Linked DNA regions of Homo sapiens. The protein of the gene in region 1 interacts with the protein of each later gene in a pairwise test. Each region holds a gene or a part of one and is shown in the gene's direction. Other genes may lie near its edges.

Region 1 (3,500 bases):
TTCACCTGGGCTGGAGTGCAGTGGCACAATCTCTGCTTACTGCAAGATCTGCCTCCTGGGTTCAAGTGATTGTCCTGCCTCAGCTTCCCGAGTAGTTGGGATTACAGGCATGCGCTACCACACCTAGCTAATTTTTGTATTTTTTTTTTTAGTAGAGACGGGGTTTCACCATGTCAGCCAGGCTGGTCTCAAACTCCTGACATCAAGTGGTCTACCTGCCTTGGCCTCCCAAAGTGCTGGGATTACAGGCATGTACCACCACACCGGGCCAAAATGAAGTTCTGAAATTTAACTAGTATCTTCTAAATGGTTATGTTTTAAAAAGCTCTTTTTGGTTTTAACTATTTAAAGGTATTTAATTTCTGCTTTAAAACTTCTGATTTTGTACTAGAATCTACCACAAAAGCAAGTATCATTGCTATACTCTATTTTATGTATTATAACTAAGCCTTTTACCAACTCCTGAAATGTTTCTGTTACTGGTTCAGCTCATTTTTTAAATTTTCAGTGCACTGTGTGAAACTTCCGCATGCGTAGGAATCTATGTGAGGTACTTAGAGGGAACCTATTTGACTTAGCTTCAATTTATGCTTAATCGTTGTTTCTGGAAACTTAAGCCATTTTTTCACTTGTCCTGAAATACCTCTAGGTTGGACAGCATTGTAAATGTTAATATCTTTGGTCTTAAGCATTTTGCTAACCAAGTGTTTATTCAGCTTTTGTTTTTTTCCCCTTTCCATTTATTCTAATGTTCTATTATTGCTTTAACCTTTCGTATTTTAAACTTATTTTTAATGATGAAATCTTTTGAGTGAATGCATGCTCAGAGATATACTTGTATACTTTAAACATAAACTAAAGCCAAGGCATCATATTGCTGATCTGTCTGTAGACTATTCCAAGCCTGGATTGTTCTATGCCTTAAGCGCCTGTGTCTATATTTAGACTCTAGGCAAGAAAAAGAGAGAGCAAATGCTCATGCTAAAGCTGTCAGATGTAAGTCTTTGGTTCTTCCAGGTACTTTATATCTGTATTTTCCTAGCCAGAAATCCTGATTTTGAAATTATGAATGTACATTCAGAGTAAAAATTAGAGTTAAAATGCTACAAACAGGGCAAAGACACCTTCAATAAATATTAAGTGAATTAATCAGTCCTTTTCTGGAACTTAAAATCTTGTAGAATACTCAAATAATAATTTTATTTTATTTTAAAATGCTTTTGTGCCAAGATATTTTATCAAATTTCTAAAATATAATTTTTTAGTTATATAATAGTCTAACATAAAATTTAAAAAATTATTTATTAAGATATGTGCTTGAATGAATGCTAACTTTAGGAGATGATAAATGGCTGCTGATGGGGGAAAAAAACAATCTTCTAATTAGTTTTGCTTTTTAGAAATCATTGGTAATTTTAACCTTTCTCCTAGATGCCAGGATAGAAGAATTTGTTTATGAGAAACTGGATAGAAAAGCTCCAAGTCGTATAAACAACCCAGAACTTTTGGGACAATATATGATTGATGCAGGGACTGAGTTTGGCCCAGGAACAGCTTATGGTAAGTGAAATGCAAAAAGTTCTAATAAGGGATATCTTTATGTTTAGATTTATTAGAGATGTCATTAACATATTAGTAGGCCGGGTGCAGTGGCTCACACCTGTAATCCCAGCACTTTGGGTGGTTGAGGTGGGCGGATCATGAGGTCAGGAGATCGAGACTATCCTGGCTAACATGGTGAAACCCCGTCTCTACTAAAAATAACAAAAAATTAGCTGGGTGTGGTGGCAGACACCTGTAGTCCCAGCTACTTGGGAGGCTGAGGCAGGAGAATGGCGTGAACCTTGGACGTGGAGCTTGCAGTGAGCCAAGATCACACCACTGCACTCCAGCCTGGGCCACAGAACGAGACTCTGTCTCAAAAAAAAAAAAAAAAAAAAAACATAGTAGTAGAATTGGTTTTAACTTCAAATTTATGTTAAAAATTTTTGATGAAGTGAGAAATATAGGCAAATATATACAGTTAAATGTAATATTTAATATATTCAAGCATATATTTAGTTATTCAGAGAATTCACATCTTTTTTAGTTCTAAAAAGTTTAATGAATTCTTCACTTGTTCTCCCAGTGATCTTACAATACCTATGTTATAATACTTGTGATATTGCAATTATTGTTTGCATATGTCTCTTCATTTTTAAAAAAGCTTTCTTAGGGCTTATTTTATGTTAAAGGTACTTGGCACGTAGTTCTTGAACAAATCAGTGCTTTTGTTATAATTTTGCAGTAATGTCAGTAACCAAAAAATATTAACAATTGTTATCTCTGGATATTTGGATTACATTTCATTTCTGTTTTTCTCTTATGTATTTCAAATTTTCTATAGCCGTGGTTTAGTTACACTCGCTTTATTAGTTGCTGTACAGACTTTAAATGTATAGCCCTGAAGCTCAAAGTTACATACACATCTTTATTGTCACTCTAATTTTCTCATAACATGAGACTGTTACAGATTTCAGTAGCTTCTTTTCCTGTTGTTTATGTCTAATAATAATTCTCTTTATACATCTGCAAGATACTGGTCTTTGGATATGAAATGGTAGGTAGATTAAATTAATTTCTACACATAGTTCTGATTTACAGAATGGTTTATAAATTCTAGGATTAAATGAATTTTAAGCTTTAGTAGTTATCTTTATGTCAGAAAGAAATAACCTAAATATTGTTGAATGCCACTAATCCATTGACAGGCTTTTTTAGGTACACAACTTTGAAACTTCTACATTGTGTTCTTCAAAATCTAATTTTTAAGTTTGAAAATGCTTAGAACTTCAAAATAAAATTATTTCTGAATTTTACTGTTAATTTTTAGAAAAATGTTATACATTAAACAGATGTTTTATTGCCTACTTGTGCCAAGCTCAGTTAGATGCTGGGATCATAAAGGTATGTGAAAGGAACCCAGCAGCCCCTTCCTTCACCAGGCTGAAGAAGGTTTTAGCAGAGCATGAACATTAGTAAAGGCTTCTAGATTTTCTTCCCTTTTAAATCTGCTTAATCTGTTTGCACCTCTAGTAATTCTAGTGAATGTACCCTGGTTATTAGAATTGGGCTTTGTGAACCTATTACCTTATTAGTAATTAATACTAAAAATTGAGTATCACAGGCATGGGCTAAGCATTATATAGTATATATATTTACATATTAATTCTCATTTATATCCTGCTTTTAAGATAAATTATATTACCTTCATTTTAAAGACAAGGAAACAGGTTTGGAGAAGTTAAATAATTAATCCACAGTCACAGCTAGTATAGTAATTCAAATGAAGATCTGTCTGTATCCAGTGACGGAGCTCTTAACTACTATCTGTATTACCTTCCTTATCAGTCAGATCAAAGCTTATCCTAACATGAAGGGATTAAGATCCTTAGAGCTAAAGCTTATTAGAAGTAAAACTAGGAGTGGAACCCTGATCTTGGGGCTTCCTTTCTTTCTAC
Region 2 (4,159 bases), on another chromosome or scaffold:
CTCCTCGCCGGTCTCCCTGCCTACGCTCTGGCATTCCATCCCCTCTGTCCACCCAACCACTAGAGTGAGCCTTCGCCCAGGACACCCGCTCATGTCACTGCTCAGAGCCCTTACATGCCCTCCCACCGCCCTTAGGGTGGACTCCAAATACCTTATCATCGTTCACCAGGAACCCTCCCCTATTGAGCTGCTCAGCCCTGAAATGTTCTGTTCCACTCACTTGTCAGTTCTCCAAATGCACCATGCTCTCCCTCTTGCCTCCAGCCTTTGCATTCACTCTGCCTGCTATGCTCTTCTCCGAAGCCCTCTGCAGATCTGAGAATCTCTTCCTCCAGGAAGCCTTCCCTGACTACATCCCTGACGCTCAATTAGGTGCCCCTCCGTGTAATGCCGCTAAGCCTGTGTCTCATTTCTCACAGCCCTTTTCATTCTTTTTTTTTTTTTTTTTTTTGATGCAGAGTCTCGCTCTGTCGCCCCAGCTGGAGTGCAATGGTGCGATCTCGGCTCACTGCAACCTCCGCCTCCAGGGTTCAAGCGATTCTCCTGCCTCATCCTCCCGAGCAGCTGGGACTACCACCACCACGTCCACCACCACGCCCGGCTAATTTTTGTACTTTTAGTAGAGATGGGGTTTCGCCATCTGGTCTGGAACTCCTGACCTCAGGTGATGCGCCCGCCTGAGTGCTGCATTACAGGCATGATGTGCCTGGGATTACTGCCAGGAGCCACCGCGCCCGGCCTCACAGCCCTTTTCTTTTCTTTTTTTTTTTTTTGAGACGAAGTTTCACTCTTGTCCCCCAGGCTGGAGTGCAATGGCGCGATCGCGATCTCGGCTCACTGCAAACTCTGCCTCCCGGTACAAGCGATTCTCCCGCCTCAGCCTCCCGTGTAGCTGGGATTACAGGTGCGTGCCTCCACGCCCAGCTAATTTTTGTATTTTTAGTAGAGACGGGGTTTCATCATGTTGGCCAGGCTGGTCTCGAACTCCTGACCTCAGGTGATCCGCCCGCCTCGGCCTCCCAAGGTGCAAGGATTACAGGCGTGGGCCACCGCGCGCGGCTATTAATATTTTTTGAAACAACCTTTTCCTGGGTCTCAATTCCCTCAACCGGGGAGGCCCCCCAGCCAGCACCCGCGTGCATCCGTGGCGGTTCACACCGAGGACGGTGACGGACACCCTAGTCTGCTCCGCCTTCTGCCGGGTCTGGCCCCAGCCGCGGGGCCCCACCTCGGAACCGACAGCGCCGCCGCGGCCCACTTAAGGACGGGAGGGCGGGCCTGGGAAGGCTCGGCCCCGCGTGACGTCAGCGCGCACCGCGGCGTGTGACGCTCTGGTTGCCGCAGAGACGCCCCGCCCCCGCGCGGCGCTGCGGAACCGGAGCTCCGGGCGGCGTCGGCAGCGGCGCGAGAGGCGACGAGGCCCGGGCGGCAGGAGCCGGCGCGGCGACCGCGGCGAGGGCGGCGGGGACGGAGCAGAGCACGACGAAGACGCACAGGCAGCCGGGCCGGGCCGGGCCACGGGGAGAGCGGCCGGCGGGCAGCGGGCGGGAGGCCGGGCGGGCCGCGGGCAGCCACCGAGCCGCGAAGCGACATGGTGCTGCTCAAGGAGTAGTGAGTGTCCGGCGGCCGTGCGGAAGCGGGGAGGAGGGAGGGTGGGGACGGCCGCCGGGGCGACGGCGCGGCGAGGGACGCAGGGCCCGGATGGACGGAGGGGCAGCAGGGACGGAGGGTGCCTGAGGCGGGCCCAGCGGGGATGGAGGGGATCCGGGGCGGGCGGCACGTGAGGCGGGGCCCACGGGGCACGGAGGGGCGGCCGGGGCGTGGAGGGGCGGCCGGGGCGTGGAGGGGCAGCCGGGGCGTTCGGCATCTGAGCCGGGGCCCACGGGGCATGGACGGGCAGCCGGGGCATGGAGGGGCCCACGGGCACGGAGGGACAACCCGGGCGGACGGCTCCTCAGGCGCCCCGGGGGCCTCGGAGGCCCAAGTGGACCCGAGGAGAGGCCGGGGACAGCGAGGGCGAGGCCAGGCCCGAGACGGGGTCAGGGCAGGGAGAGCTGGCCCGGGACTGGGGGAGGCCGAGGGGACGCCGAGCGCTGGGAGTGCTGTGGGGTCGCTCTGCGCGGGCCGAGGGCGCGGGCTCAGCCGGGACTGCAGGCGGCGCTGAGAGGCCCCGCGGCGGCCGAGGAAGAGGCGCACCGGGGCAGGCAGGGCCTCCCGGCGGTGGGGAAAGGTGGAGGGCCGAACAGTTCACACGGAGAGCCGGGTGGATGGGTCAGAGGCTCCGCGATGGAGTTGGGATGGGGATGGGGAGGAGTGGCCGCCTTAGGCATCGGGTGAGGGGTGGTGGTAAGTGGACACAGGAGGAGGACTAGGAAGTCAGGGCCTGGCTGGGGAGACAGGTGAAGGGTCTGAGGACATGCAGAGGGGGCTGAGATGCGGGCCGGAGTAACCGTGGTGCCCAAGCAGCTGGTGCGGAAGAGGAGGCTTTTGGAACAAGCTTGGGATGACTGCTTGGGACGTGGGGAGACTTGGGCGAGGAGGCCAGAAAATGTTGGGTAGGGTCCGAAGTGGAGAAGGCCGGGAAGTTACCGGGGTCGAGGCTGGTCCGGAAAGAGAGTATGTTGGGATGAGTATACCTGCCGTTGGAGATGGGGGAGACCAGGGCAGGGCCAGCTTGTTTCTAGGGGATTCTCAGTCTTGGTGCAAAGAGATGGGGAAATTCTTTGAGGAATTGAGGGGTCCATGGAGCCGTGAACTGAGGAGAGATGGTGGAAGGGGTGGGGAGCTCTTGAGTAGTGAAGAGGGGTGCGTGGGAAACTGGTGACTTCTGGAAGGAGTTGCAGGATGACGGGTTTGCTCCTGAAATCCAGGGGACTGGGGGACAGGTGGAGATGTTTGGTGTGCTAAATCTTTCAAGTACAAGATGAGCCATCGTTGAAGCTCAGGGTTCCAAGTAAGCATCACAGGACATTTTTCTCCCCAAAGAGGAGAGATAGGATGGGTGTGTGTGTGTGTGTGCGTGTGCGTGTGTGCACAGAATTTACAGTGAAACTGCTTTCCTGGAGGGAGGGCCAGAAGCCCCAGGAGTGGGAGATGGTCAAACAGAGAGCAACTTGTGAGGCAGCCAGGCAGGTGTGCAGAGAGCTCTTGCCACTTTGTCAGCGATCGCACTTTGACCATCCCCACCAGGCTGGCTCCTTGGAGGTGCTTAGGACATTTAGGACATAGAGTGGAGTTTGGGTAACAGAGGGAGCTGAGACCCACATGTCATCCCAGCTAAACACCTCATCTGAAGAGCATTATTTTGAGGCCTCATCCCCTCTGTTTCTTGACATCCAGTCTGATGTTAATTCAGCCAGGGCTCGGAGCTTTTCCTGGTGAGGAGGAAGAACTTTACGATGCCAACAGGAGAACGTGGTGCACTTTAGATTTTAATCTTCAGTGTCCAGACTGACAGGCTTTTCCCATCCTTCTGATTCTTTTTCCTGTTCCCAAATGAACCCTAGAATCTGTAGAAATCTGTGGTTTTGAAATGAAGGTCAGGCAGGGAAAGGAAGGGACCTTCAGAGGAGATCTGAGTGAGGTTTGAAGAGAGGCACTCCTTCCCTGTCTTTGTTCTCCTCCCCTTGAAGCCTGCAAGGGAAAAGTCCAAGGTGCCGGAGATGCAGGGCCTGCCTGGTATCTGCGTTTCCTTCCTGCCCGACTCGTGCCCCGTGTGTGCATCCCTGGGCGGGGGACGGGGGAGGAGCAGGGGCATCAGGGCATCCGAGACACTGGCTGTGGCCGCAGCGTTGCAGCCCTGGAAAGGGTGCGAGTGAAGGTCACATTAGAGTGAGTGCCGCTCCAGGCCCAGCCCGGCAGTTCCTCTGTGGCCCTGTCCTTTGGAATTGTACCCTATTGCTGCCGAAGTGGTTTTGTTCCTAAGGAGCAAGGGGGCAGTGTCAGAGTGTGCAGCCGTCACGTCAGCAGCCTCAGCGCATCCCGTCAGGAATTGGCCCATGGCATTCTCTTTTGGGGTGAGACTTGGTTCCCACCCAGCGTCTGCAGGTTGCCCCTGTTGATTTTTCCAACACTTCCTCTAACAGGATTCTGTTTAATTTGATTTCTGCAAAATCTTGGATGTGATTTTGACTGCTGTTCTTGAAGATAAAAGGCTTAT
Region 3 (3,500 bases), on another chromosome or scaffold:
TGACATTATTAAAGTTGGATGAATGAGAAAAAGTGAGTTGAATGCTTTCTCTTCTTAGAAAACTTTGATTGCTATGGAGATGCACATGACTGACAGTCCTGAACTTCATGTGTGTTTAAGGCCTGGATACCATGGCAACAGTTATTGTGAAAGATTGATGATTTTACTTAATCATGTTGGACCCTACATACATTTGCATAAATGTTCCTCTATAATGTTTACCCTTCACAGAAGAGCCTAGATAACATTTGAAGTGTACATGTTAATGATAACCTGTAACCATAATTCTTTCCACATTAAGGATGAACTACTAAGTAGAAAAAAGAGAGAAAAGAAAAAAAAGACTGGCAGCAAGAGTGTGGATGTATCAAAACTCGGTGCTTCAGAAAAAAATGAAAGGTGAGAGCATATAAAAATACTTTATAATTTGAAGCTGTTTTAAAATACATCTTTAATATGATTCAACTTCATATGTATGTCTATTTACATGTGCTCTCATTTATATCTGTGGTAGTCTTATAAAAGACTAATAATGTGCCATTGTTTATGAGACAAGTTCTAATCTTAAGCAAAATGTCTTCAGGTTTTTTCCCCCATATAAAGTGTGACTATATATTTAAATAATCCCTCAAATTCTTCTAGTTTGAAATTTTTATACTGAACTTTAGAAACAAAGTACTATTAGACGGACCTATCACTTAGCTCAGGAGTGACAGTATGTAGAGAGGCAGTGATATGCAGTACACTCAAAAAGATACCACCATTTCTTCTATTGATTCATAGAAAGGAATAAAGGGTTTAAATAGTTCACACAGCAGGGCATGAACTGGGATCAATGTGGGATGGAGATCAGAGACTATTCTGCCTGTCATCTATTCTGATGACATCAGTGAGTAATGCTTCAGTGAACTGCAAATGACATTAATTTTTATGTATTGGTTTGTTTATGCTACAGTCTTCATATCTGGTTGTCAGCACTTGGGAACACTCTGATGATGGTTAGTTTTTTATAGCTGAAGTAATCATAAGGCTTAAGAATTCGTTGTACAAAAGTGATGAAAAGCCCAGGTTAGAAAGAAGGCTTTTGTTTATCTTTGTAACTTGATTAGGAGCCTCCTTCCCCAAAATCTTAGCCTAGATTCTCTTACATGCTATATATATTGCATTTGTTGTGACTACTGTATTTCATGATGGAGTAAGTCAGTTATAAATATTTCAGTGCATACTTTCTTCATTTTTTTTGTTGAAGTAGCCATTCACAAAAGAATTCATGATCTTTATAGAATTATTTTGCCTCCCAACTTTCTCTGTATATTCCTCATATGTTGTATGGTGTTCTTTTTTCTCCCTCCCTTTAGATTGCTGATGAAACCACAGTGGCATGATTTGCTTCCATGCAAACTGGGGATTTGGTTTTGCCTTACACTAAAAGCATTACCTCACCTCATCCAGGTAAAATGTACCTCTTTTATATAACATTAGATCTTTTATTTTTAATCACTCATGAAATAATTTATGCCCATGTCGGCTCTCTGAATGCTGATATGCAGTGGATGCTTTATAATGTTGATTGAGTAGGATTTTTATAAGTTAAACCTAATTTAGATAATTCTAAGATAATTTAGATATGTTTCTGTAATTATCTTTTATAATGGTTTTAGATCACCTTAGAGTCCCAAGATGCTAGAAAAAGAAAAAAACATACTATCTTTAGTACAGAGATAAAAGCAATAAAAATTTAATCCACTGTTATCATTAAAAGCATAACCAGTAAAAAGGAACAGTATTCAAGTAGCTTGCCACCCATTATTTTAATAGCATTTAAGTACATAGTGTTAAAAAAAAAAAAAAAAAACTTTACATGAACATCTGTATAATTGTACCAAAATATATATTGCTTTCCATTTTATTTGCAAATTTAAGAGGAGTGAGGACATTTTGTCTTATACAGGTAATGAGTTTCTGTTTCTATTTAGTCTTGATTAAATAATAAAATGTGGATATGTATCATATTTAGATGTCAGTTTCTTTTATTTTTTTACATTTAGTATACCAAAGCATATTTTATTAAATTATTGCTTTGTTAATTTTGATTTTTGCATCAGGTTTGAAAATCCCCAACACATAAATATTTGAAAGTAAATAAAACACTTTTTGGTGTACAGATTTTGAGGTTGAGATTGTAATTTTTTGGAGAGAAATGTTTTATTTTAGAAAATAAGTGTTTATAATCTAGAGGACCAGATAATATTCTAATTCAGTTCTACCCACTTTGTAGTTATATATTAGAGCTATTTTTCCTGATTTTTTAAGGAAGCTAATGACTACAACTTCTGCATTTTCCTTTATTTTTCTCATAATGAAAATTTTATATTTAAAGGGGATATTGAACCAAAATACTAGTGTGCTTCTTTTTATCCTTTGAGAAATTACCAGTTCTTCCATCAAAATAGTTCATCTTAATAGTTATTGCTTATAGAATCTTATATTTTGTTTACAGTTAATAGAGAAAAATTACAGTATTTTGGTAATTTAAAAGGTTTGTTTTTAAGTTGTTTAGTGTGTTATATTGTTTGCTTGAAAAAATACTCTGCAATGTTTGTATGCTGTCTGTAAGACTTAATGAGGGAGGGAAAGTCTTTATCACACTGGTATGTTTATGAGAAAATGAGGCAGAAAATATTTTTAGGGCAGATTTTCTTATTTTTTGAAGTCTGATTATTTTTTGCCAACTTTAGAATCCGTGCAATAGGCAAACCAGAATATAGATGAGTTAAAAAGTATATTCATGAGGCAGTATAAATAGAATATTACATAAGATATCAATATTAAACACTTCTTTGTAATTTTAATCTAATTTGAAATAAAATTTATTTGGTAAAATTAACATATTTCTTGTTTAGCATGCAGGGTAATTTGCCAGACTAGAACCAACATATTGTTATGGCTTAGATTTATAATTTACTTTAAAATACTTGCCTGTGATAGCTGTTAATTCATGTAATAGATTGATTGTTTTGCCTCATCATAAATTTGTAGAAAATATACAAAAATGAGGAATTTTACAGAAACTTTTTAGTTTCTTTAGAAACTCTGCTTTTTTTAACTGATCACTTTGAATTTTAAAGTTTTTACTTACTTGATGGTATCTGCTGGCCTTTCGGTTTTGAGATGCTAGGCATTAGGGTTCCAAGACCTTTTAAATCTAATTTTTAAATTTTATTCTAATTATTTCTTCTTGATAAATGGATTTCAAGAAGAAAATTAAGATGATTTTCCTTTTTAAAGGAAATATTTGATATTTTTATTCTGCTGTGGGGACCTTAGATTAGTGTTTCTAGTGGTCACTAACAAAATAATGTAATGCAGTAGACTCTTTCAAATATATATTATAATACTTTAGAAAGTACTTTAGATTGATTGCTTATGAAATACATTAGCAAAACAATACTGTTCAGTTGCTCTCAGGATTAGATTTTTGTCGCTTTTTGTTTTGTAGT
Region 4 (3,500 bases), on another chromosome or scaffold:
TATTCTAGTTAAAATAAATGTTTGACAATGATGGAAGACTTTCTAAAACGTTGGTTTAAGAACAAAATAGGAAACATTCCTTAACCTCTTTTTTATAACCTAAGATCTGCCAGTGTGACTACCAGTACCAGTGCTTTGATTTGTATCACCTGTCATAATTTATCAAGCACTTTTACATGCATTATCTCAGTAAATTACATGGTAAGATGAATTCTCACATTTATAGGGCAAAATCACACTCATATAAATATATATACAATTCTTATGCTTTAGTTTGTCCCAAAATTTTATTTTTTGGCTGTGGGCCATCACTGAGAGAACAAAGATATTTTGAGGCATAAACACCATACGCACTCACTGGTTAAGTGGGCTCCATTTGGTTTGGACAAATTCATATTTATGCTCAGTGAATTATAAGTTACTGTATACCGTGGATCTTTGGAGTCACTTAAAACAAGTTTAGATCGTGACTGTTGAGTCTGCAGGTGCTAAAGGTTGAGTATGTTGTAGTTTGGTAGCATCTCTATCTTTTTTTTGCCTTCATTCTGTCACCTCTTCTTGCCTGCAGCTAGGTGCTAGATATTTACAATCCATTGTCTTTTTCTTTTTTCTTCTTTTTTTGTTGAAATGGGGTCTTACTGTGTCACCCAGGCTGATCTTAAACTCCTGGGCTCAAGCAGTCCTCCCGCCCTGGCCTCCCAAATTGCTGGGATTATAGGCATGAGCCACCACACCCAGTAGTACAGTCCTTTTTCCAATCTAACTTTTTAACCTCAAGAAATCTGAAAGACCAGATAACAAAGGTTTTTAGTTTTTTTGTTTTTCCTGTAAAAGACTCATTAATAAGCTCCTTGTGATCTCTCATTCACTTCTTTCCAAAGTAAAGTGCAAGACCTTTATATAATGTCTCAAAGGACTTTCCCCCTCCGTTTTGTTTAGGCTGCAGTGGTTGAGGGTGCTAGAAATTTAATCTGTGAATATAAAAGATACTACTATAGCTGTATTTGGACATACTGTTGGATATTTTGTAGGTTTATTCACAAATCCTTAGATAACTAGTAAAACAAAAAGTTTAATAAGAGTTTATGTTCACCTTGTTTCCCAAGAATGGTACTATGCAATTTTGTCGTTTTGTTTTCTTGCCTAAGTGATATAGATTTTTATATGTGATCCTAGCTATTTGGGAGGTTGAGGCAGGAGGATCACTTGATCCCAGGAGTTCAAGACTAGGCTGGGCAACATAGTGAGACCTTCTTTCTTTCTTTCTTTCTTTTTTTTTTTTTTGAGACAGAGTCTCACCCTGTCACCCAGGCTGGAGTGCAATGGCATGATCTCAGCTCACTACAACCTCCGCCTCCCGTGTTCAAGCAATTCTACCTCATCCAGCCGAGTAGATGGGATTACAGGTGTGTGTCACCATGCCTGACTAATTTTTTTGTATCTTTAGGAGAGACGGTTTCACCATGTTGGCCAGGCTGGTCTCAAACTCCTGATCTCATGATCCGCCTGCCTCCACCTCCCAAAGTGCTGGGATTACGGGTGTGAGCCACCGCACCTGGCCCGAGACCTTCTTTCAAAAAGAAAAGAGAAGAAAAAGAAAATTGTTCAAAACCTTAATAAATGACACACTTTAATGATTAAGTATTAAAAAGTTCCTTTCTCATAAATGAGTAATTATTGGAGAATATGTATCTTATTGAAAAAATACCTTACTGAAAAAAACCCTTGCCGGGTACAGTGGCTCACTCCTGTAATCCCAGCATTTTGGGAGGCCAAGGCAGGTGGATCACGAGGTCAGGAGATCGACACCATCCTGCCTAACACACGGTGAAATCTCATCTCTACTAAAAATACAAAAAATTAGCTGGGCATGGTGGCAGGCGCCTGTAGTCCCAGCTACTTGGGAGGCTGAGGTGGTAGAATGGTGTGAACCCGGGAGGTGGAGCTTGCAGTGAGCCGAGATCGCGCCACTGCACTCCAGCCTGGGCGACAGAGCAAGACTCTGTCTCAAAAAAAAAAAAAAAAAAAAAAAAGGAAAAAACCCTTAAGTTTTACTGTTACATCTCTATAAACATGTATTTTTGCTTATGCATATTAGGCCATCTATAACTGTGCTAAGTAACTTCAGGTACTAAGAGGGATTCAGTAATTTAGTACATAATTAGTTTTTATCAAAACTTTAGTTATTAGAGTGATAATTTAATAACTCAATTTATATTTGTTAGACTAATGAAGTTTTTTGTTTCAAATATTACATTGAAAAAACCGAGCCGGGCACTGTGGCTCACACCTGTGATGCCAGCACTTTGGGAGGCAGAGGCAAGCAGGTCGCTTGAGCCCAGGAATTCCAGACCAGCCTGGGTAACATAGTGAGATTCCATTTCTACAAAAAAAAAAAAAAATACAAAAAATAAGCCAGGTGTGGTGGCGTGCACTTGTGATCCCAGCTACTTGGCAGGCTGAGGTGGGAGGATCCCTTGAGCCCTGGAGGTCAAGGCTGCAATGAGCCATGATTATACTCCAGCCTGGGTAACAGAGTGAGACCCTATCTCCAAAAAAAAAAAAAGACTGAAAACTTGTTTGATTTACAAATAGAAATTACTCGAGTATGTGATATGAAATGAATTAACTCAGTTTTCCAACAAGTTGTAGGAGTTCTTTTTCCATTTTGAAGATAAGTTCGTATTAGAGATTCTGTTTCTCTTTTCAGAAGCATTAGACATTTGCTTATATTAGCCACTTCCCAAAATAGTGTCATATTTTCTCGACTTCTTAATTATTCCAAAAAGCAAAACTTAGTGTACCACTAAGCCAAGTACTTGGGTTTTCAGATTCCTTCCAAACTCACATTTTAAAGTTTTTATTTTTATTTTTAGGGAATTCAAGTTTGGACCAATGCTAAGGAATGCTTTAGCAAGATGTAATCCTGTGAATTGAATTTCTCTTCAATCAAAGTGCCCCAAAACAGAAGCACAAGTAAATAAAAGAAATTTAAGTCACTACCTAGTATACATAAACATATACAATAAGTTAAATAAATTCAGCTTTCTTTAACTTAATTGTGGTCGTGTTAATGTAGCACAAAAAATATATTTTAATGAAGATTAAATATTATAATTTGAGGTTTTGGGGACTGGTGCTGATTCCAAAAAGTTAATTTAATAATATATACCAACAGATTGTTTGTCACGCTTCTGAACCAATGACTGAATGTCAAGATGTTCGTTAATTTCTAGATGTTTGTTTCAAGACCAGCTGTTTCAGATCTATTAATGTAGGGAATTTTTCCCTAAGATTGAATTCCTATATTTACTTGGTAAGATCCACTAATCTGTTATAGGGAGTTGTTTTCTCTTGCCTTATAGTTGAGCTATTTGGTTTGACAAAGCTCAGCAGAAACTTGATGTGAAAAATCTACGATTTTCTTCTACATTCATTGATGCCCCTTGTAATGTTTGCATACACTAGAAAATGCCTTCAATTTGTGTTTTACCAGAATT
Region 5 (4,237 bases), on another chromosome or scaffold:
CATGAAGGGTGTCTTTTGGGTGACACACTTCACCTCCTAAAGCCCATGCATTCCCGTCAGTAAGATGGTGCAGAAAGGCACAGCCCTCACGGACTGAGCGAAGATGGCTGAGGTGATGTCTGAAGTGCATTACAGTACAGTCATGCCCCATGGAATGACTGCACAGCCAATGGTGGTCCCCTACGATTCTAACACTGTATTTCTACTGTACTTTTTCTATGCTTATGTGTGCTTAGATATGTGAATACCACTGTGTTACAACTGCATACGGTACTCAGGACAGTAACGTGATGTACAGGTTTGTGGTCTAGGAGCAACAAGCTGTAGCGCATGGCCTGGGTGTGTAGGAGGCTGTGCCGCTTGATATTTTTTTCCTTCTCTTCCCTGGAATTGCTGTTTGATTTCCCTAAGTATACTCTGTGACCGCACAATGACAAGTTAAATTTCTCAAAACGTATTTGCATTGCTAAGGCAGGCACGGCTGTGTAGTAATATGTCCCATCATCAACCCGTGAGGGTGTCACAGGTGGGGCCTTTAGCCAGGGAGACGCAGCCTCGCCTGGAGTCCTCCTCTCGTCTTCCTCTGTCTCAACCCTGCTGCAGCCCTCCTGGGGTGAGCGGCCTCTGCCCATGCTGGGAGCAGGGAGCAGCCTCTGGCTGGCCCACGAGGCTCTGTCGCATCTCTGTTCCCTCTGCATGGGGGTGGCTGTCGACCCTTGGGGCAGCTGCAGAGGCCGCAAGAGGGGCCATAGCTCTCTCAGGCTCCTTATAAACAGCCATTCCTGCCACCAGGAACGTGGCACAGGGTAGGGAAGCCCAAGAGGAGATGCTGGAACACAGGCAGGGCTGTCTGGGGTGCCACATCCCAGGGACAAGAATAGCTGGCATTAACTGCTCTAACTAGAACTCCTCCCAGTGTGAGCACTGCTGCGGCTGCAAGAAGCCCTTTGAGGGGCTGCGACCCCAAGGCGCAGGCTCAAGGATGCAAGGCTGATTGCAACACCCCGGTAAGGAAGCAGGGCCTGGCTGACTTTCTTTTAGCTGAGTGAATGCAGCTCTGAAGCCTGACCTGGGCTGGGACAGCCGAGGCGGCCACCAGAGGGCGCTCCTGCCCCCACTCTGCTCCAATGAGTAAATGCAACAAATGGTTCATCCCCAGGAGTCCGTGCGCCCGCACAGCGGCCGCCTGTCCAGCCTCTGGGAGGCTCTGGCATCCGAGTGGTGTGACCACATGGCTGGCTTCCTCCCCCTGCCCTCCTCAGGCCCTGACTCACTGGGGTTTTGTGCTCGGACTCAAAGAGCTCCATTGACAGCGGGGCTGGGGTCGGTTTCTCTCCACACAGCCTAGCCTGCTGGGAGGCACAACCAGGCAAATGTCACAGGGCCCGGCCCCTGGACTCTGGAGCCCTGCCCTGACAGCTGGGCCAGGAGTGCGGTCACAGCCCCAGCAGAAGGCCCTCACCTCACAAGGAACATGAGGCGCCTTGCCGGGCGCGCAGGCCACTCCCAGGTCACTCAGGATTCCAAGTTCTCCCCCAAGACGCCTTCAGATGCTGAGCGGCACAAGGGCCTCCCCAGGGACTGGTTGCAAAGCCTCCTGCTCAGCTTGAGAGGGCCACCAGCTCCCCACTGTTTACTGTTGTTCCTGAGAGAGGCCAGAGGGAGGGACCAGCCAGGGAGTGGCCAGAGGGACAGAAGGGGTGGCCTTCCTGAGGGCAGGGTGGGTGCCCCAGACCTGAGAGCGCTGCAGGACTCCCCTCCACAGGCTCAGGTGGAGCCTCCCCAGGGTCCTCCTGGCCAGGAAGGCAGAGAGCCGACTTCTTTCTTCAGCTCCCAACCCAGGCCCAGCCCACGGCGTGGGAGTCGGGGAGAGGGAGAGGAGGAGGAAGGAGGAGGAGAGAGGGAGCTTGTCTTGTCCCTGAGCAGCGCTCTCAGGGCAGAGGTGAGGCACCGGGACATGAAGTTGGAGGACAAGTTCCCAAGCAGGGCTTCCTCGGGCTCCCCCTCGCGACGGTAATTTGACACTTGGATCTCCAGGACGACCAACAACAAAAAAGCCAGGCAGAGACAGCAGCTGGCTGTCAGCAGAGGAGCTGGGCTGAGGCGCCCAGGGGAGCAGCGGCGCCCACGAAGGAAGTACGAGGACAGCACGTGGAGGCTCCGCGCTGGGGCACTGCTGCTCAGCCCCCAACACCTGAGCTCCCAGGTGAGTGGCAATGGCCACAGAAGAAGGGGGGACAGGGAGGGAGCAGCAAGGGTCCCCTGCCCCCAGGGTGAAGGGCCACAGTCTACCATAAACACGGAGAGGTCTTCGGGGACATGCTGGGTCGCTTCCCTGCAGGGAAGTCAGCCAGCCTCCTGCACACACCTGCACTCTCCCTGCTGCTGGGACCCTGCACTAGGGGAGGGCTGGGGGCTCTGCTCAGAGCGCCTCCTGCTCCGCCTGCTGTGCAGCAGAGGGGCCCCGAGGGCCTGCTTATTCTGCAAGTTCATTTCAGCTCTTTTATTCAGGGGGCTTAAAAGAGGGATTTGGCTGTCCAGCTTGGGAGAGAATGGCTGCCGGCCTGCTGAGCCTCCCTTTTTCCCAGGATTAGGGCAGAGCCCTGTCGAGGTCAGCGCAGGGTCTGCCCAGCCAGCATGCGGCGCCCCCAGGATGCAGCAGGACTCTGCCCATCTGTGTCCTTTCAGGGGCTTGGCCCACTCACTGCTGGTGTTCTCAGCTCACGGCTCAGCCTGGGTCCTCCTCCCTGGGCCCATCTAGAACCCCATAAACTCCTAGATCTCCCTCTGGTGATGAGCCTTGAACACCAAACCAGGAACCTGGAGGACTGACTTTCAACTCAGGCTCAGGTGGGCAGAAGGTCACAGAAGTGAGGCTGGGAGGGACCACGCTGGCAACCGGGACCTCTGCTGTGCCACCGTGATGCACAGGCTGACATGACACCACCCCTAAGGAAGCAGGACCCGGCTGTTTGGTTCTTTGGGGAACACTGAGAGCAGCCCTCCTGGGCAGGGCCCGTGAGCCGAGGCTGCCTACTCCTCCTGCCGCCCTGTCCTCAAGCCAGCGTTAAAGCCACCACCCCCCATATGTTTTCCTCAAAGCAAACAAGCTGGCATCTAGTGAGAAACAAAAACAATGACCCAGGGAAATGTGGAAACCAAGGACTAGCCCAAGTGTTCTCAGCTCAGCAGAGGCTGGGGGCTTCGGCTGGGGCTGGTGTCTGGGGAGACAAGCTCCTGCGGTGTTGGGAGGCGCACAGTAGGGAAGAGTCAGGCCAGGTCGGGGTCGGGGCACAGCGGTGAGCCTGGAGACCCCAGTGGCTGTCACTCACAAGACGCCCCAGGCAGGCAGGTGGGGATCCCTGTCCTGCATCCACAGGACACGAGTGGACAGGGTCTCTCCAACACAGTCCCTGAACCAGGACGGAGGGTGAATGAACAGCCAGCTTCTGTAGCTGCAGAAAGAGCGCCTACTGTTTCTAACACCAGCAGCAGAAAGCGCTTCCTCCCGCCCTGGGTGGCTACAGGAGCAGGGCCTGCCAGGGGTTCAAGCACCACTTTCTACTTCCAGTTGGAGCCAGGGCAAAAAGGGGAGTCACCCAAAGGCTCAGTGCCACAAATAGGGGCATCCCCCCCGGCTGCTCAGGCACAGGACCCTGCAAATCTCCCACAAGTGTCAGTTATGCCTCCTTCTAGGTGGACCTCAAACGAGATAATGCCCAACAGGGCAAGGGTGACTAAAACCCACCATGACGAAACAACAGGGCAGAGCAAGCAGCCCTCTGGGGCCCCGCGCTGCCAACACACCTCGCTTATCAGTCTCAAACACGCCGCCTGCTGCCAGCCCTTCCTCGTGAGGCGCCTGGGGTTGGAGTATCAGCTCTGCGAGGAGGAAACAGGGAAGCTTCGGGACCAAGTGGCAGCTGTCTGGCCTGCGGGATGCCTGCCTGTTGCAAGGCTCCGTGTGCCAGGAGATGCCACATAAAGGAATGCTTCCCATCCCTCCGGCTCTGCCAGCCTTCTCTGCCCTGAGTGTTTCCCCTGTGCTGACCGCTACTGCAGCCAGGGCACACCCTCTGAAGGCTCCAAGCAGGGCTGGCTGGGCAGCCTGGGCAGCAGGAGGGCCTGGTGGCAGCTGGGCTACACTCCCTCTTAAGGCCAGAGGGAGCCACCACTTGCTCTGGCAGCCACTCAGGAACCCCTGAGGACCCTGAGAAGCCTCCAACCAAGGCACTAC
Region 6 (3,931 bases), on another chromosome or scaffold:
TTGTTCAATTGATCACGACCCTCTCAGGCGCACCCCCTTAGAGTTGTGAGCCCTTAAAAGGGACAGGAATTGCTCATTCGGGGAGCTCGGCTGGTGAGACAGGAGTCTTGCCGATGACCCCAGCCGAATAAACCCCTTCCTTCTTTAACTCGGGTGTCTGAGGAGTTTTGTCTGTGGCTCGTCCTGCTACAAAGTGATCCGCCTGCCTCGGCCTCCCAAATGCTGGGATTACAGGCGTGAGTGACCGCACCTGGCCTGGGATGGACATTTTAAAGGTTCCTGATACATATTGCTAAATTGTTTTCTCGAAACGCTCTATACCATCCCACCAGCATTGTATGACGCCTACGGTTGAGATTTTTGGCTCAAAGAATTACGGTGTATTTCAAGGGGAGAACCCTCTTCTCATCTTACCCCTAAACTCTATCCTTGAGTGACCTACCTTCACTCCCAAGCCTCCAGTCACCCACTGGGAATCTCTACCTGGAAATCCCAGAGGCACTCAAACTTAACGTGTCCAAAACTAAATTATCCGTCACCTTCCCACCTCATATCCCCCCAAATGCCCCAGATTCAGAAAACATACCCATCACTGTGGCTGGCACCACGGTGATAAGCACGATAATAACCATGGCAACCAGATTCCCTACTGAAGCCATTCTTTTAGGATGAACCAAGGGCACAACAGGCAGAGATGACAAGGGGAATGGAGAAGGGGGTACAGTAAGTTTTAGATAGTCGAAGGCACGCGCACGACAACGCCTGCGCACCACGGAACAGGGCAAAAGGGTGACAAACATGCGCCACTGAGTTTTATCGAGCAGCCGATGCCCAGAAAACAGGCATCCGCACACAGACTCAGTTTCCTTGTAGGCAACTCCCGGGCGTTGCGAGTCACAACCGGCATTCTCGCGCCGTGAGAGAGAACTGCGCAGCTGCTGACTGGCGGGCCGCCAGGCGCGTGCGTAGAGACGCCCACACGCCCGCTGATGCGCACGCGCCCTGGGCCGCGCGTGCGCGCGTGGGGTTCCGGAATGAGCCGGGGAAAGCAAGGGGAAGGTTTGGGGTTGGCTCCCGGTTTCGCGCATGCGTGCACTGCACAAACCATTTGGCGGGTTTTTCCGGCCACTCAGTTCTGCCACCGTCACTGAGAAGCTCAGCGGTAGCTTTTGGGAAGCAGGACGTTCTCACCAGGAGAGCGTCCTCTCGAGATTTCTGCTCCCTCCATTCAGGGCGTTTGGGAGCCACCCCTTCATTTTTTAAAAAAAGTATTTCTCTGTGACCGACGGCCGGGGCCTTCTGACGGTCTGAGGTCTTGCTTGGGCCAGTCACCTCCTGTCACGGTCCGCGGAGGGGGGAAGGATAAGAGGGCGAGGAGCTCATCGCTCGCCACCCCCGTGGGCTTCTTGGGCGCAGGTCGGAGCTGGGTGGGCCGGCTCCCCGGCCCCTGGCTTGGGCGACCATGTCCGCATCCGCCCAGCAGCTGGCGGAGGAGCTGCAGATCTTCGGCCTAGACTGCGAGGAGGCTCTAATTGAGAAATGTGAGTCCCGCACCCCTCCCGCCCTGCAGCCGTGCTCCACGCTCTCGCCCGAGTTCCTCGGCGCCTAGAACCGAAAGTGGAGCGCTTCCAATTTCCACTTCCCCTGGAGCAGAGTTCTCGGTGGCTGTGAGATGAAGAATCAAACTTGAGTTTTGAGATTTAGGATGTGGGGACTTTGAAATGCCCACCGGGTACCGCTTGGATGCCAAATCAAAAATAGGAATATGCAGCACGATTTTAAACCAACTCGAAGTTCCCGAAAGGCGGAATTGGGATGTGCTAGATAGAGACTAGGCACTGGTGGCACCTGAGTTTGGAAATTGTTGAAGCCCCGGTAACAAAGCAACAGATGTGGGGGTTTTGAAATGTAGCTTTTTATTCTTGGCTCCTCCCTTTCCAGCCTACACCTTAAACCTCTGCTGATCCATCAGTTATTTTATCATAGCTGTTGGTGGTCTGTGCAAATATGAATCCCTTGAGGTAGGTTCCTAAAATTGAATTTGAGCTGTGGAAGGAGCTTTAGGGAGCTTTACAGATGGAGAAACAGACAAGGAAAGCTAATTGCCTGAGCTGTCTGTGAAGCCAGGTGTCCTGCCTTGGAGTCCCGTGCTGCATCATACGGGTCCATCGTGTTGGTCAAGCTGTAGAGCAGTGTAAGGAGTCATTTGAAGCAAAGCCTGGGAGATGTGGAAGTTCTAGAATCGGTATGAATGTGCACCTGCCTTAACCACTCAACACTTTGAACTTCTTATATACAAAAAGATAACGAAACGTTAATTTATGGTGAGAAATTCCTTTCAGAAACCAGAATACTTCAAGTCTTCATGCCCAGTGCCTTCTCTCTCTCTCTTTTTTTTTTTTTTTTTTTTTGACAGTCTTGTTTTATCACCCAGGCTGGAGTGCAGTGGTGCAATCTCGGCTCACTTCAGCCTCCGCCTCCCAGGTTCAAGCGATTCTCCTGCCTCAGCCTCCCAAGTAGCTGGGATTACAGGCGCCCGCCACCAGGCCCGACTAATTTTTTTTTGTACTTTTAGTAGAGAAGGGGTTTCACCATGTAGGCCAGACTGCTCTCGAACTCCTGACCTCAAGTGATCCACCCACCTTGGCCTTCCAAAGTGCTGGGATTACAGGCATAAGCCAGCAGGCTCGGTCCTTCTCTTTTTAAAAGAAGACTAGCCAGGTGTGGTGGCTCACGCCTGTAATCCCAGCATTTTGGGAGGCCAAGGCAGGTGGATAATCTGAAGTCGAGAATTTGAGACCAGCCTGACCAACATGGAGAAACCCTGTCTCTACTAAAAATACAAAATTAGTCGGGCGTGGTGGCGCATGCCTGTAATCCCAGCTACTCAGGAGGCTGAGGCGGAAGAATCGCTTGAACATGAGAGGCAGAGGTTGTGGTGAGCCGAGATCACACCATTGCACTCTAGCCTGGGCAACAGGAGCGAGACTCTGTCTCAAAAAAAAAAAAAAGACTTAAGTGGAAAACCTGATCATAGTCAGAAATGTATGTGGTAAGCATGAAATCAGCATGAGAGAAATTAGTTATGTGAACCAGATTTGTAAAGGCTTCAGGCCAAGATGCCAGTTGCTTTCATCTCATGGCAATGGCTTTGGAATTGTGGACTTTGGATCATCAGTAACTTCAGTGGCACCTTAATGTTTCCTGACAGTCAACCGTATTTCCCTGTTTTTTTTGTTGTTGTTTGTTTTGTTTTTTGAGATGGAGTTTCTCATTGCCCAGGCTGGAGTGCAATGGTGCAATCTTGGCTCACTGCAACCTCTGCCTCCCGAGTTCAAGCGGTTCTCCTGCCTCAGCCTCCCGAGTAGCTGGGATTACAGGCTCCCGCCACCACGCCCGGCTAATTTTTTGTATTTTTAGTAGAGATGGGGTTTCGCCATGTTGGGCAGGCTGATCTCGAACCCCTGACCTCCAGTGATCCTCCCACCTCGGCCTCCCAAAGTGCTGGGATTATAGGTGTGAGCCACCACACCTGTTCTACTTTTTGTATTTTCAGTAGAGACAAGGTTTCACCATGTTGGCCAGGCTGGTCTTCAACTCCTGACCTCAGGTGATCCGCCCACCCTGGCCTCCCAAAGTGCTGGGATTACACTGCGCCAGGCCCCTGGTCTCTTTACTCTGAGTCTTCCAGATGATTGTTTTCCACCTTCTCCTGTAACATCCTTCTGTCCCACCCTCACTCTCAGCTGACAAATTTCTATTATTTGCTGAAAAATGTAGAAGCATTAGAAAACTTCGATCAGCTACCACCATTATGTCTCACTGACCCATATCTGTGGCATATACCTAGCCTTCTTTCCTATTATAATGAATAAGCTTTCCGTATTCCTAGCAAAATCCAAGTCCTCCACTTGAGTCCTAAACCCCATTC
Region 7 (3,500 bases), on another chromosome or scaffold:
AAAAGGGAGCGGCCAGGCGCCGTGGCTCATGCCTGTAATCCCAGCACTTTGGGAGGCTGAGGTGGGCGGATCACAAGGTCGGGAGTTCGAGACCAGCCTGACCAACATGGTGAAACCCCGTCTCTACTAAAAATACAAAAAAAATAGGCAGGCGTGGTGGTGCGCGCCTGTAATGCCAGCTACTTAGGAGGCTGAGGCAGAAGAATCGCTTGAACCTGGGAGGCAGAGGTTGCAGTGAGTCGAGATCGCACCACTGCACTCCAGCCTGGGCCACAGAGTGAGACTCCTTCTCAAAACAAACAAACAAACAAAAAACAAGAAGGGAGCATAGAGCCTCAAAGGTTGAGCTCACTGCTTTCATCACTTTGTTTTCCACCTGAAAAATCTTAATTTGCTTCTGTTGGAACAAAGGATAAAATAGAAACTCCTTACCCAGATTGCCAAATCCATACATGATCTTAGCCCAGGGAGATCCATGGACTCTCACTGTTCCCGTATGGTTGCTCCATTCTACTAAGTTATCTCTTTGCTTTCCCCGAGGCTTGCTCTCCAACTTCTTAACTTAAAAGGGCCCCCTATAGCGTGAAGGCTTTCCTGATGCCTCCAGTGCAGAAATTAATAATAGTTACTGTGTGCCAGGTGCTTCCTGTGAACCTGTAAAACAAGAAACAGGTAGCAGGCTTCTACCTTGTCCTTTCTGCTCATTTGTGTTTTGTTTTTATAAGTGTCTTCTTAGTACAGAGATGGAGGTTTTTCTATTTTGCTCATCTAAGGAATCAGAGATGATGTGGAAAACCAACTGCCTCACTGTTATCTGAGATCAGTAATTTGGAAGCATATTTTGCTTTGAATGACTTTTTCTGATTGAGTTAGGGGTGAGATGAAGAATGTGATAATTTTTTAAAATCATGGCATTTATTTTTTAAAATCTTAATATATTAAACAATACAGTTTCAGATACAAAAAAAATTACTGCAATAAAACAGTTGAGGTGTATTTCCATTGTGCTTCCCTTCCTTATCAGGAAAGTACATTGTCCACTGAGAGACAGGATGGATGGCCTCTCCCAGCTCTACACAAAGCACAAGCCTACTGGCTCTCCTGGGCCTTGGTTAATACATGGAACAGGCTATGTTTTCTAAAATGTTGTAGCAACACTCATAAGTCAACCATGGTTCAAAAAGTCAACCATGGTTCAAATCACATATTTACATATTGATCAATTCTTTATGATAGACAGACATAAATGAGATACAGTAAATAATTTCCAGTTGTTAAAAAAAAAAAAAAAACAAGTACAGGCGACAAACTTGGTCATGGTACACAAATATACTTCATGTGTACAGACAGCTTCATTCAGGTCTAATTTTTTTTTAATTTTTGTTTTAGGTTAGGTATATTTGCAGGTTTGTTATATAGGTAACTTGTCTGTCACGGGGGTTTGGTATACAGATTATTTCATCACCCGGCTAATAAGCATAGTACCCGATAGGTAGTTTTTCCGTCCTCACCCCCGTCCCGTCCTCCACCCTCCATTATTCAGGTATAATTTTAATTTGAAAGACCTAGATATACTATTATTTAAGTGATAATGGCCTCTAAGATTTATTCAGATTACTATCAAATAATAAATTAAACAAATCCACTATAATTTAAAACTCTGTCCATTGCTTGAAACCTTGGAGGAGCCTATGCTACAATCAGTTGCTAACTAAAAGCAATTGTACGTGTATTTGATATTTCCCCACAGTTTCTACCTCTAGATTTAATTCAGTAAAGGAAGATGATATTTGAAGATGAAGTAGCACTTGTGTCCTGAGCATCTCTCAGGCACTACTGCATGGAATGGCAAAGGGGATGCAAGAAGCACATCAGATGACAACGGTCTTAGACGCTTACAAGTCTGCTAAGGTGACTGACAAGGGAATCAAAGAAGGCAGTCATGTCATGGACCTATCAGCAGCATAGCTGGGCAACCCTGGAGCTGAATCTGGCCCTCAGACTTGTTTAAATTGCCCAGTGTTTTTAAAGACACTGAATTAATTGCGAAAATTTATAACTCAGGAAATTTCACATAAAAATCCCACTTGTCAGCTTCCCTGGAAAACCCAGAAGAGGGGGCAGCACTGGGGGAACAGTGATCTGAAATGGCTCATTGGCAGAGCAGCCACCACCTTTCTGCAGGCCCCTGGTTCTGCATGGGTCCCTCTCCTCCCTGTGCTGCACCCAGCCCACACCTCTCACTTATGCTACTTGCTGGTGTTTGTGACCCCTACAGTATAGTCAGGGTGCCATATAATCAGGACAGGAAATATTAGGATTTCAGAAGGAATAGAGCTTACCTTGGAGAGCAGAGTATAGTGGAAAGAATAGGGCTTTAGAGCCGGGCCAATCTACATTCAAATGCTAGCCTGCCCTCCTGCTAGCTTTTGCCTTAGAGAAATATTTTCCCTCCAGCTCCCTTTGCTTATGATAAAATGGATAATATCACCTTCCTTGCCTCCCTTACAAGGTTGTAGTGAGGATTAGCAATAACGGATATAGAGTGCCTGATGTGCCTGGCACCTGAGCACATGCCATCGTAGATCTTGTGGAAGAAGTCTGGCAGGATGCTTTGGTTTAAGTACCTGGAAACTGTTATAAAAAGAAGCATGGAAAAAAAAGAATAACCCAACCACCACCAAAAAACAAACTCCATGTAGATTAAAGAGTTAAATCTAAAAAATGTAAACTCTTAAAAAAAAAACTAAAAGGAAATACAGTTGTATATTTAACTTTCCTCAGGATGGGAAAAGACTTTCTAAGCATAAAAATCATGAAGACGAGCCAAAGAAAGGTCAGTAGAGTTGACTCTAAAATTTTTGAGCTATTCCATGTTAAATACCATAAGTACAGTTAAAAGGCAAATAGCAAATGAGAAAAGCATTTGCAAAAAGTATGACAAACAAATGCCTTAATATCTGTGGTTGTAGATCAATAAGAAAACAGTGTTAACACCCCCATAGAACAATGGACAAAGGACATGAACAGAGAGTGTTCACAGCAGAAGAAACACAAACAGCAAACAGAATGAAAAAAAAAAAGTTGAACTTGGGCTGGGTGTGGTGGCTCACACCTGTAATCCCAGCACTTTGGGAGGCCAAGGCAGGTGGATCACTTGAGCCCAGGAGTTCAAGACCAGCCTGGCCAACATGGTGAAACCCTATCTCTACTAAAAATAAAAAAAAATTAGCCAGGCATGGTGGCAGGCACCTGTAATCCCAGCTACTCGGGAGGCTGAGGCACAAGAATCGCTTGAACCCAGGAGGTGGAGGTTGCAGTGAGCCGAGATCACACCACTGCACTCCAGCCTGGGTGACAGAGTGAGACTCTGTCTCAAAAAAAGAAAAAAAAAAAAAAAAGAACTTGGCTTGTAATCCAAGATCTCTAAGTTTGAATGAGTTGTCATTTCTCCCCTAATTGTTTTTCGTTACTGTCAGTTGATAATGTTCAGCCAGAAG

Evidence for each region.
Region 2: the proteins of SH3GLB1 (region 1) and PITPNA interact in binary tests that used the Homo sapiens proteins (3 or more experiments, as listed by UniProt).
Region 3: the proteins of SH3GLB1 (region 1) and DNAJC1 interact in binary tests that used the Homo sapiens proteins (3 or more experiments, as listed by UniProt).
Region 4: the proteins of SH3GLB1 (region 1) and SNX4 interact in binary tests that used the Homo sapiens proteins (3 or more experiments, as listed by UniProt).
Region 5: the proteins of SH3GLB1 (region 1) and SMIM5 interact in binary tests that used the Homo sapiens proteins (3 or more experiments, as listed by UniProt).
Region 6: the proteins of SH3GLB1 (region 1) and POLA2 interact in binary tests that used the Homo sapiens proteins (3 or more experiments, as listed by UniProt).
Region 7: the proteins of SH3GLB1 (region 1) and ALKBH3 interact in binary tests that used the Homo sapiens proteins (3 or more experiments, as listed by UniProt).

The regions. Positions count from the first base shown.
Region 1 is NC_000001.11:86,718,076-86,721,575, forward strand, and holds part of SH3GLB1 (endophilin-B1), read left to right. Parts: intron 1-1,431; coding exon 1,432-1,560; intron 1,561-3,500. UniProt on the Homo sapiens protein: May be required for normal outer mitochondrial membrane dynamics. Required for coatomer-mediated retrograde transport in certain cells. May recruit other proteins to membranes with high curvature. May promote membrane fusion.
Region 2 is NC_000017.11:1,559,993-1,564,151, reverse strand, and holds the start of PITPNA (phosphatidylinositol transfer protein alpha isoform), read left to right. Parts: upstream 1-1,359; 5' UTR 1,360-1,591; coding exon 1,592-1,611; intron 1,612-2,254; exon of another isoform or gene 2,255-2,953; intron 2,954-4,159. UniProt on the Homo sapiens protein: Catalyzes the transfer of phosphatidylinositol (PI) and phosphatidylcholine (PC) between membranes. Shows a preference for PI and PC containing shorter saturated or monosaturated acyl chains at the sn-1 and sn-2 positions.
Region 3 is NC_000010.11:21,916,731-21,920,230, reverse strand, and holds part of DNAJC1 (dnaJ homolog subfamily C member 1 precursor), read left to right. Parts: intron 1-301; coding exon 302-399; intron 400-1,358; coding exon 1,359-1,452; intron 1,453-3,500. UniProt on the Homo sapiens protein: May modulate protein synthesis.
Region 4 is NC_000003.12:125,447,203-125,450,702, reverse strand, and holds part of SNX4 (sorting nexin-4), read left to right. Parts: intron 1-2,876; coding exon 2,877-2,924; 3' UTR 2,925-3,500. UniProt on the Homo sapiens protein: Involved in the regulation of endocytosis and in several stages of intracellular trafficking. Plays a role in recycling endocytosed transferrin receptor and prevent its degradation.
Region 5 is NC_000017.11:75,631,997-75,636,233, forward strand, and holds the start of SMIM5 (small integral membrane protein 5), read left to right. Parts: upstream 1-1,437; 5' UTR 1,438-1,462; coding exon of another isoform or gene 1,463-1,942; 5' UTR 1,943-2,037; coding exon of another isoform or gene 2,038-2,206; exon of another isoform or gene 2,207-4,237.
Region 6 is NC_000011.10:65,260,831-65,264,761, forward strand, and holds the start of POLA2 (DNA polymerase alpha subunit B), read left to right. Parts: upstream 1-1,131; 5' UTR 1,132-1,462; coding exon 1,463-1,541; intron 1,542-3,931. UniProt on the Homo sapiens protein: Accessory subunit of the DNA polymerase alpha complex (also known as the alpha DNA polymerase-primase complex) which plays an essential role in the initiation of DNA synthesis.
Region 7 is NC_000011.10:43,911,831-43,915,330, forward strand, and holds part of ALKBH3 (alpha-ketoglutarate-dependent dioxygenase alkB homolog 3), read left to right. Parts: intron 1-432; exon of another isoform or gene 433-654; intron 655-3,500. UniProt on the Homo sapiens protein: Dioxygenase that mediates demethylation of DNA and RNA containing 1-methyladenosine (m1A). Repairs alkylated DNA containing 1-methyladenosine (m1A) and 3-methylcytosine (m3C) by oxidative demethylation. Has a strong preference for single-stranded DNA.